Homo sapiens: one gene and its partners. The protein of the gene in region 1 interacts with the protein of each later gene in a pairwise test. Each region holds a gene or a part of one and is shown on either strand. Other genes may lie near its edges.

Region 1 (3,652 bases):
ACAAGACAGCTGCCTGGGAGCCTTGGGCCAAGGACCGTGAGCAGCTTCCAGCAGCCAGAAGAGACAAGGAAGCGGATTCTCCCCGCAGAGACACCAGAAGGACCACAGCCTTGATTTTGCCCCATAAGATGATCTCAGACTTCTGGCCCCCGGAACTGTAAGGTGAGGAACTTGTGCTGTTTTAAGCCACGGAAGTGTGGCAACGTTACAGCAACATCAAGTGGAAACCAACACAGATCCTGGCCCAGGAAGTGGGGTGCTGCTGGAATGCCTAACAATGTGGAGATGGCTTTGGAGTTGGGCAGTGGTGAGGCGGGAAGAATTTTGAGGAGCGTGACAGAAAACCCCTAGACTGGGCCGGGCACAGTGGCTCACGCCTGTAATCCCAGCACTTTGAGAGGCCGAGGTGGGCAGATCATAAGGTCAGGAGTTCAAGACCAGCCTGGCCAACATGGCGAAACCCTGCCGCTACTAAAAAAAAAAAAAAAAAGAAAAAAAAATGTCAGCTGGGCTTGGTGGCAGACACCTGCAGTCTCAGCTACTCGGGAGGCTGACACAGGAGAATCGCTTGAACCCCAGAGGCTGAGGTTGCAGTGAGCCAGGATCATGCCACTGTACTCCAGCCTGGGCGACAGAGCAAGACTCTGTCCACAACTCACCCACCCCCTCCAAAAGAAAAACCCTAGCCTGTCTTGAGCACCCTGTTGGCAGAATTCAGATGCTAAGGCCCTCGGTGAGGACTCAGAGGAGGTGAGGAGCAGGGCAGAGAAAACACGTCATCTTCTAGAACAACCTAAACTGCCACGAACATGCTGTTGGTAGGAATAGGGATGTTAAAAAATGACAGCGGGGGGGACCATGGGCCACACAGGAGCGCTCCCTTCAAACCTCACGTGACCCGCCGGGCTGGACTGTGAAACTGCCTGGGACTAGTGACGCCCTGTTTCCTTCTTCTTTTTCCCATTTTGAAAGGGAATGCCTGTCCCACAATTGTATTTTGGGAGCAGATAACTTGCTTTCCAGTTTCACTGGTCCACAGATGGAGAGGAATTTTGCCTCAGGATGGACCACGCAATCCCCCATGCCTGATTGGATGGGATTCTGGACTTTGGAGGGACACTGTGGGGGACCCAGGCTTCTGCAGATGTTGGTGAGGAGCAATGCACCTTACAAATGAGACAATGAGAATCTCCGGCGCCCACGTCCCAACCCCCAGAGCCTGCAAATCCACTACCTTACATGGCAAAAAGAAGAATTGGCAAACACGATTAAATTCAGGATTTTGAGGTGGGAACATCCTGGACCTGGGATCCTGGGGGCCCAAAGCAAGTACAAGAACCACGTAAGTGACAGAGCGAGGCAGGAGGTTCGAGAGAGGCGCGAGATGGAAGTGGAGGCGGGGCGGGGATGAGGCTGCCTGCTGAGCACCTTGAAACAAGCAACGTGGGCATCCACCAGAATCTGGGAGAGGCAAAGGAACAGACTCCTCCTGAGCCTTTGGAAGGATGGCGACCTTGCTGACACTGGGGACAGCCTCGTGAGACACATTTCAGATTTCTGGCCTGGAAACCCGGCATGATACAGATGTACTGTTTCCAGCGTGAGGCTGTGGAAAGCCATAGCAGCAGCCACAGAAACACTGACCCCGTTCTTGGGGCCAGGACACCACCCCGTCCCGGGGAGAACGCAGTCCCAACTCCTCGGGAACACCAGGGCTGCCACCTCCCGGAGGACACCCCTTCCCCAGCCAGCCTGTCAGGCCACAGCTACTGCCTCCAACTCCTGATCTTGGCCCGGGGCCTGGAGGCCAAGCAGGGATACAGGGCTCCTTCTGGGTCTCCAACTCAAGACGGTGCCAACTCTAGGCTCTGAACTCCTTGCGCCTTGCAGAACCACCACTTCTCTCTCCCCAGTGAGGCAAGATCTAAGAGGGAATGTGGGAAGGCCCAGCAGACACACAGTCCTGCCACAGGGAGCAAGCAGGGAGGCACAGGCTCTCATGCCAGGTGCCCACAGGACACCCTGCAAATGGCACCACTCAGCTCCCAGCCGGCCCCACAGGAGCGGCCAGTGTGACCGCCAGCCGGCAGACGAGGTAAGCACGGAAGGGACGCGAGAATAAGAACACTGTCCGTGGCAGTCCGGGCATGGAGGTCACAGAGCCACACGTCCCAAGGAGCACAGCGCCGTGCACCCTGCCCTGACTCTGCTGTGAAGCCAAAACAACCAGCAGCATCAGGAAAAATCAGACATGCTGCTTGGCCGAGCAGGAGCCCGCAGGTCCGTGGGCCGCGGGTACTCACTCCAGCCAGGGATTTCTGGATGTTCTCTCTGGCTCTCGCAATGTCACGGAGGATCACGCTGGCGCCGTTCTCCTGCAGACAGTGCAGAAAGAACCAGTCTTTTTTTTATTATTAAAAAAGAATTTAATTAAAAAACAAACCAAAAAACCCCATGAACCCTCACATAGAGACAGCAAGAAAGTACTGCACAGAACGAGAGCTTGGCGGGCCAGAAAAGCGGGAGATGCCTGAGGCTGTGACGACAGGCAAAGGCGCCCATGTCTGCGGGGGAAGGAGTGCCAGGCCTGGCCCCACACCAAGTGCACAGGCGCCGGCAGGAGGGCCCTGAGCAGACCCGGCCCGGGGGCCCGGCCAAGGCCGCCTGCCCCGAGACCCCACTCCCAGCACCCACAGCAGAGCCACTGGGCCAGGGTGCCTCTGCCTTCCTGGCCTGGCTGAATCCGCTTTGTGTGCCCCGGCCACTCCTGTCGGGCAGCAGAGCCGCCCAGCCGCCCCACGTGCAGCTCTCACCTGGCGGGAGGCACCTGCCACAGGCCCGTTCATCTGCTCGTAGAATCTCCTTTCTGCGTCGTCATATTTGAACTTGTCGAACCAGATCTTCTCATGTGCTAGGAAGTTTGTAGCCATTTTTCTGCTGGGAGGGGAAAGAGGCAAAGTCAGCATGGCTGGGAAGTGGGCCTCGGCATCAGGACAGCCCAGAAGCACCAAGGTGCAGTGGGGCTGACACCCGCTTCAGACACCAGCGGTTCTCCACAAAGCGACACCAAGCCCGTAAGCCCTCACCCCACATGGCATCCCCAGGCCTGTCTTCCAGACGAGGAGTTCTCAAAGTGTGGTCCGAGAACCTCTGAGGGTCCCCAGGCCCTTCCCTTTCACTCACACGAAGCTGGGTTTATGTCAAACAGCTGAAGTGCGGAGGCAGGTATGAGGGCCCAGCTGCCTCCCACTAAGCCAGACACCCGAGAGATTTGCAAAAACCTCAAGCAAGGCCATTCTGCTCACTGAATTTTTTGGTTATGGGAAAAGTATTTCTCATAAAAAAAAAAGATGTTAGTAATATGTAACAAGTTTCTTCAACAAATAAGTACACTTAGCATTTCTGAGTTTTTTTGTTATTTTTTTTTTGTGTGAGATGGAGTCTCACTCTTGTCGCCCAGGCTGGAATCAGCGGCGCGATCTCGGCTCACCGCAACGTCCGCCTCCTGGGTTCAAGCGATTTTCCTGCCTCAGCCTCCCGAGTAACTGGGACTACCAGTGCACACCACTGTGCCTGGCTAATTTTTTGTATTTTTAGTAGACAAGGTTTCACCATGTTGGCCAGGCTGGTCTTGAACTCCTGATCTCAGGTG
Region 2 (3,652 bases), on another chromosome or scaffold:
CTAACAATAATTATATGACTTTCCCCAATGAAATCTGAGTTTCCTGAAGGTTCTGAATGTAAGAAAAGTCCTAAGAGAATACCAAATTATAGATTATTAGCTGGAAAAGACTTTAAGGAAAGTCCAAGCTCCCTCATTTTTATAAATGAAAAAGATGAGGCACTTACAAGTTAAGTAATTTGTCTTACACTCAGGAGAGTTCTGGATAGAGCAACGACTAGAACACAGTTTCTTTGATCCTAGTCCTCTTTCTACTGTACCATACAGCACTTTAAACATATTTCATTCTCTGTTATAAGCAAAATTAATATTTTTACATGACCTGGAAATGATAAACTATTTATAGCTTAGGGCTTTCTTCTCCTTTAGCACATCTGCATAAACAGTTCTAATTTCTTAAAGTTAGTTTAAAAGCAGGATAGCACACAAAAAATATGTTAAGTGTTGAACAACTGCATCAAGGATGATAATCTGCTCTGTTGCCCAGGCTGGATTGAGTGCAGTGGCACGATCTTGGCTCACTGCAACCTCCATCTTCTGGGTTCAAGCAATTCTCCTGCCTCACCCTCCAGAGTAGCTGGGATTACAGGTGTGCACCACCATGCCCAGCTAAATTTCGTATTTTTAGTAGAGACAGGGTATCACCATGTTGGCCAGGCTGGTCTCGAACTCCTGATTTCAGGTGATCCACACGCCTCGGCCTCCCAAAGTGCTGGGATTACAGGTGTGAGCTACCGCGCCCAGCTGATATTCCTTTTTATGAATTCTTCTGAGAATACAAACTCTGTGTGGGTGGGTTTCGTTATTTTATCCACTGCTTTATCCTGAGTGCCAGAACAGTGTCTAATATACAATAGGCCCTCAATAAATATTGAATAATTCAACCTTCTTGGTAGCTGATTGTTTGAAGATATTCTATTTTTCACCAATATTTTACAATTGTATTTGAAATTCTAATCTTACATCTATTTTAGTTATCTCTTAACTTTAAATAAGTTATTACTTTAAAAAATAATATATGTATATTTAGTGTATTTAAACTTAATATATTAAATATACACTTAAGAATATATATGGACATATATTAATATCTTAGACTGGCATTAAGATTCTTCACTGACAATCTGTGGCAACAAAATAAGTTCTAACAGAGATGCTAAAGAACTGTGTAATTCAAACTATGTAGGTACGTACACTCATTATTTGATCCATATTAGATTTTATTTACATATAATAGAACAATATATATTTGCACTAAGTTGTATTTAACCATCTATTGTAACATCAATTCTCTTAGCATTGAATATAAAATTTTTATGATACAGATATTTCCTTATAAACACTGATAACATTGGTTCATTTAGTTTATTTTTATTTAAAAAGAAATATCCTCTAGGTCTTTAAAATTAAACAAGCTAATTATCTAGGAAAAATGCAAATATTATTCTTATTTAGACTTTAAAGTAACTTTTCCCATGAGTCTTCAGAGGGAACCCATGTAATGTTAAGAATGATATTCTCAGCACCAGCACATTAAGCACTGCAACAAGTTTCACAGAACTATTTTTTCAAAAGCTCTTCCATGTAAGCCAAAATGTAATTCAGTAAAAGGAGAGCTATAATGCGTTAAAATGATATGGTTCAGATAGCTGTTTTTGGGACTAACTTCACCAAAGGATAGTTTTTAGACTCTTTAGAGCTGTGGTCTTCCAGCTCCTCTTGAACATATGCCCTATCAGTAAAAAACAATTTGAGTATACATCCTGTTTATAAATCATTTATATATTTATAAATTATATAGAATTACTGCAATAATATATTTTTGTATTACAGAATGTATACACAATGAAAAATTTAAGTGGATGAAATAACAGTAAACGTTACTGGAAGTTCTATAATTTTCTTCCTACATTCCAGTGTTTCATTGTGTGCACCCCTTGGGATGACTTACCCCATTTTGGAACTCACAAATACAAATAAATGACACTCCTCCACTGATAATTTTTTTGTTTTCCTTAACTAAGCTTTTAAGAAAACATTGGGCCGGGTGTGGTTGCTCACACCTGTAATCCCAGCACTTTGGGAGGCCAAGGCAGGTGGATCACCTGAGGTCAGGAGTTTGAGACCAGCCTGGCCAACATGGGGAAACCCCATCTCTACTAAAAACACAAAAATTAGCTGAGCATGGTGGCACATGCCTGTAATCCCAGCTACTCAGGAGGCTGAGGCAGGAGAATCGCTTGAACCCAGGAGGCCAAGGTTGCAGTGAGCCCAGATCACACCACTGCACTCCAACCTAGGGAACAGAGCAAGACTCTGTCTCAAAAAAAAAAAAAAAAAAAGAAAAGAAAAGAAAAGAAAAAATAACACTGGGCAACATAACTTCAAGATTATTTCTTTGACAAACACTGGAGTACAGCTATGCAACTGGCTAGGGTGGAGTCACATATTTTTATAGTCAGGTGGGGGATAATGCGGGGACTGACATCCTTTTTTGTGAGTTGAGGAACTTGACCAGGACACACATTTGGCTAGAACTCTATTCCTTCTCTACAGTGGCAGATCATGACATGCCAGCAAAAACACATAGGCAAATGGATAATGAGAGCCTCAAAATTCTGGCTCACAGGTCAGAGATGCAATACTGTAACTAAAATATGTATCTATACATAAAAACACATTAGTTTTTTTTTTTTTTTTTGAGACAGAACCTCGCTCTGTTGCCAGGCTGGAGTGCAATGGCACGATCTTGGCTAACTGCAACCTCCACCTCCTGGTTTCAAGTGATTCTCCCGCCTCAGCCTCCCAAGTAGCTGAGATTACTGGCACCCGCCACTACACCCGGCTAATTTTTGTATTTTAGTAGAGATAGGGTTTCATCATGTTGGTCAGGCTGGTCTCAAACTCCTGACCTCAGGTGATCCACCCACCTCAGCCTCCCAAAGTGCTGGGATTACAGGTGTGAGCCACCGTGCCTGGCTAAAAACACATTCTTGTTACCTGTCGAGACATACAGTGTCAGTGATAAAATTAAATCTCAAAAATCTAGAATCAGCAATGTATGATTTCCAACTGTTAATATTGTAGCATTTCATATCATTTAATAAACTCCTTGTAGGTGAATCTAGAAAAATGTTTCAATGACAATTCAATAACAAATACTGTTAGGCAAAATAGTATGCAAAATCCTTGAATATTCACTCTGGATAAACTCTTAAGACAATAATCAGTGTTTCCTTAGATTTTATTCAATACTCATCAGTCAACGTATTTTTCAAGCTCCTCCATTTCTACACTGGTGTGCCTCCAACTTGTCGATCATAAATAATTCTGCTGTAATAGATATCCTTACTCTGTATGTTGCTCAAATTTTAGAACTGACAGTTATTGAGAGTCTAAGTGCAAACGCTGTGCTACATGTTTTAGAGACATTAGATCATCTGATTTTCACAACAATCCTGAAATGATTACAATTACTCCCATTTTATAGATGAGATAACTAAGGCAGGAATTTAGGGTCAAGGTCACACAGCCAAGACTGAAACGTAGGTCTATTTCCCTTCAAAGCCTAGCTCCTTTTACTACACTGAAAAAGGGGGTTAAAATAACTGAACGAATCCAAGGATTTTCAGGTGAAATGCACATCCTGCAA
Region 3 (2,889 bases), on another chromosome or scaffold:
GAGAAGTGGTGCAATTTCCGGTGGCTTCTACAAAAACAGCATTGCTTGCCCTGCCTTCCTCTTCCTCCTAGAGCATGAGTTTGCCTAGGACCCAATCTCCATGGCCAAACGCGATGCCCCAGGCAGGATGGGTAAGCTACGGCCTGTGGACCAAATCCAGCCTGTTTGTGCAAGTAAAGTTTTATTGGAATGCAGCCTCACCCACTCATCTCTGTACTGTCTCTGGCTACCTTTGCGCTACAGAGTTGAGTAGCTACAACAGGGCCATATGGCCCACAGAACCTGAAACACTCACCTTCAGAGAAAAGGTTTTTGACCTTCACCCTTAGGCATACAGGGGCAAGATGGAGGGATGACCTGATCTTCCGCAAGCCACTTGCCCTGGGGCACCCACCTCAGTCAGAAGTGAAGGAGAAACAAACTCCCCTCTTCTTTAAGCCACCAGATATGGGGATTGCTTTATAGTGCGCGCGCACGCGCACGCACACACACACTCTCTCTCTCTCTCACACACCCTGGCAGAGCAAACCTTCAGCACTCTGCTGCTGCCCTGCAGCCTTGGCTTACGGACACCTTGGGGCAGCTGGAGACAGAGGCAGGCAGCAAGGGAAGAGGAGACTGGGAACCCAGAACCCCAGGGATCTGCAGCACCACAGAGAGGAGGCTGTCCCCACCCACCCTCCACCCTCCTGCTAGAGAAGCTGAGGATCCCAAGTGGCTGACAAGTGTGGAGTGTCTGTGACACAGGCTCATCACTCATCCTCTCTCTGGAGCCCAACAAGGCTTCCTCTACCTGAAAGAAAAATCCAAAGTCCCACAGCCTTCCCCTCCAGCCTTCTCAAAACGTCAACCATGGGGCCAGCTGGGCCCTTCCACAGACCCCCAGGGCCCTGGCGCTCCCTCTCAGCCCACGGCAGCACAGGTTGTGTGCCATCCCCAGCTCTGCCTGAGCCCCCACCTCAGTGTGGTCGCTGTACATGTAGTAGAGCACGTGAGTGAAGACGTCGGGTGAGATGCCATGCAGGGTGACGGCTGGGGGGCCCCCTGAGGTCGCTGGCTCCTCGCTCTCTCGGAAGTGGTCATCCAGCAGGGCTCGGAAGTAGTCACTGCGGCCACAGAAAAAGGCCTGGGGGAGGCCGGGCTCAGGAAGTGTGAGGGCCAGGGTCTGTCTCCTGAGGAGCTAGACGGGGGCTCAGGGCAACGGGCTGGGGCCAGGGGCAACAGGAGGGCACAGGCACCTTGTGGCAGAGGAAGCTGCAGCCAGCCACTCGGAAGCAGATGTCAGGGCAGCTGTTGAAGCCGTCAGGACAAGGGAAGGGCAGCTCCCAAAGATCACCCTGGGGTACAGAAGAGGTGACCCCATCAGAGCAGTTGTTCACAGAAGTGAACGACTAGGTTCAGAAAAGGGAAGTAACTGGTCCAGGACCACACAAGGAATTGAGCCCAAGTATCTGGGCTGCCTGTCACGGCCTGCCATCCCAAAACGCCCTTCCTGCCCACCAGCCCCGCACTTACTCGGAGCTCGGGGGGCAGGGCACAATCGGCCAGCAGCGCCATGTCCTCCCGGAGGCGGGGGTCTGCAGGTGGGGGCTCGATGGTCAGCACCTTCACACACGTGCCTGGCTTAGACGCCACTACAGGGGAAGAACAACTTCAGGGAGCCAGGCCAGCCCTGCCAGGCCGCACCCATGGCCCCGGGCCCCAAACCCTGCTCGCACCAAACTCAGACACCTTCTCGCACTTGGCCTCCAGGTCGCTGAGCAGGTCCCACAGCTGGCATTGCTTGGCCAGGCGCTCACAGTCACTCACATGCTCTACGCCAATGTCCAGGCGGCCTGGGGGCAGTGGGGAGGATGAGGGCCTGCGGGACCTCAGCTGTCATCAGGCCCACAGAAAAAGGGTGATCCCCTCCCACCTGGCCACCTGGCTGCAGGACTAGGACTCCTGGGCCCACTTGCCACCATGGTTTCCCCATCAAAAGCTGTTCTACAGGCCCCAGGGAACAGATGGGAGGGCCTCAGCATGTGGGTGGGACAAGCTCTTCCTGAGCAGGCACACTAGTCCTCTCTCTTGCAACCCAACCCGAGAGGCAGCTGGAACCACCCCGGGGGGACCATGAAGTGTCTAGAGGTGAAAGGTCAGCCCAGCCACACCTAGGTGTACTGCTGTCCAGAAGGACGGCCCACTCCCTCTCCTCCTACCCTGGACCCAGGGGGTCACCTGTGTACAGGTACTGCAGCAGGGCCCCAAAGGCCACGGGGTTGATCTGTGGGCAGAAAACCAGAAAGTAATGTCAGAGGCAGCCACCCAGCACAACCTCCTGCTGTTCCTGGACAGTTCATGCCCCTCTGCCACCCTGAAGGGACATACCAGTGGGTGCCTGAGAACCACGACACTCTTGCCCTTCCATTTGGTGTCCAGCATGTTGGCAAAGTAGGCACTACGTGCACCCAGGACGCAGCGATGCACCCGGAATGGCTTCCCGTGTACTACAAAGACCACGTCACTGTGGATGCCCTGCTCTAGAAGCCTGGGGAGGGACAAGCCAGGAGGGAGGATACTTGGCACAGCCCCACCCCATTCCTCGGAGCACTCAGAACCCAGTGCAGGCCACAGTCAGAGCAGACTCGCCACACCCACCAGGGCCACCGCACCCCATGCTGCACCCCTCGTGTGCCCTGGCTCACCGCTGCAAGAAGTCGTCATAGTAATCCCGCCTCCTGCAGGAAGCCGTGACCTGCTTGTAATCGCGTAGAGCCCGGCGGATGGGGTCACTCAGTGCCCCATAGAGGCAGCGCTCACCATCGAAGGTGTTGGCCTCGCAGCGGGCTCCTGGGGGAGGCAGGGCTCACCAGTTAGCAGGGAAGGGGCCTGGGGGAAATTCTAATC

Evidence for each region.
Region 2: the proteins of EEF1D (region 1) and MPC2 interact in binary tests that used the Homo sapiens proteins (3 or more experiments, as listed by UniProt).
Region 3: the proteins of EEF1D (region 1) and ABTB1 interact in binary tests that used the Homo sapiens proteins (3 or more experiments, as listed by UniProt).

What each region holds. Positions count from the first base shown.
Region 1 is NC_000008.11:143,583,916-143,587,567, forward strand, and holds part of EEF1D (elongation factor 1-delta), read right to left. Parts: intron 2,938-3,652; coding exon 2,814-2,937; intron 2,376-2,813; coding exon 2,304-2,375; intron 1-2,303.
Region 2 is NC_000001.11:167,930,486-167,934,137, forward strand, and holds part of MPC2 (mitochondrial pyruvate carrier 2), read right to left. Parts: intron 1-3,652. UniProt on the Homo sapiens protein: Mediates the uptake of pyruvate into mitochondria.
Region 3 is NC_000003.12:127,675,913-127,678,801, reverse strand, and holds part of ABTB1 (ankyrin repeat and BTB/POZ domain-containing protein 1), read right to left. Parts: intron 2,833-2,889; coding exon 2,688-2,832; intron 2,531-2,687; coding exon 2,371-2,530; intron 2,267-2,370; coding exon 2,221-2,266; intron 1,836-2,220; coding exon 1,719-1,835; intron 1,635-1,718; coding exon 1,516-1,634; intron 1,338-1,515; coding exon 1,239-1,337; intron 1,127-1,238; coding exon 959-1,126; intron 1-958. UniProt on the Homo sapiens protein: May act as a mediator of the PTEN growth-suppressive signaling pathway. May play a role in developmental processes.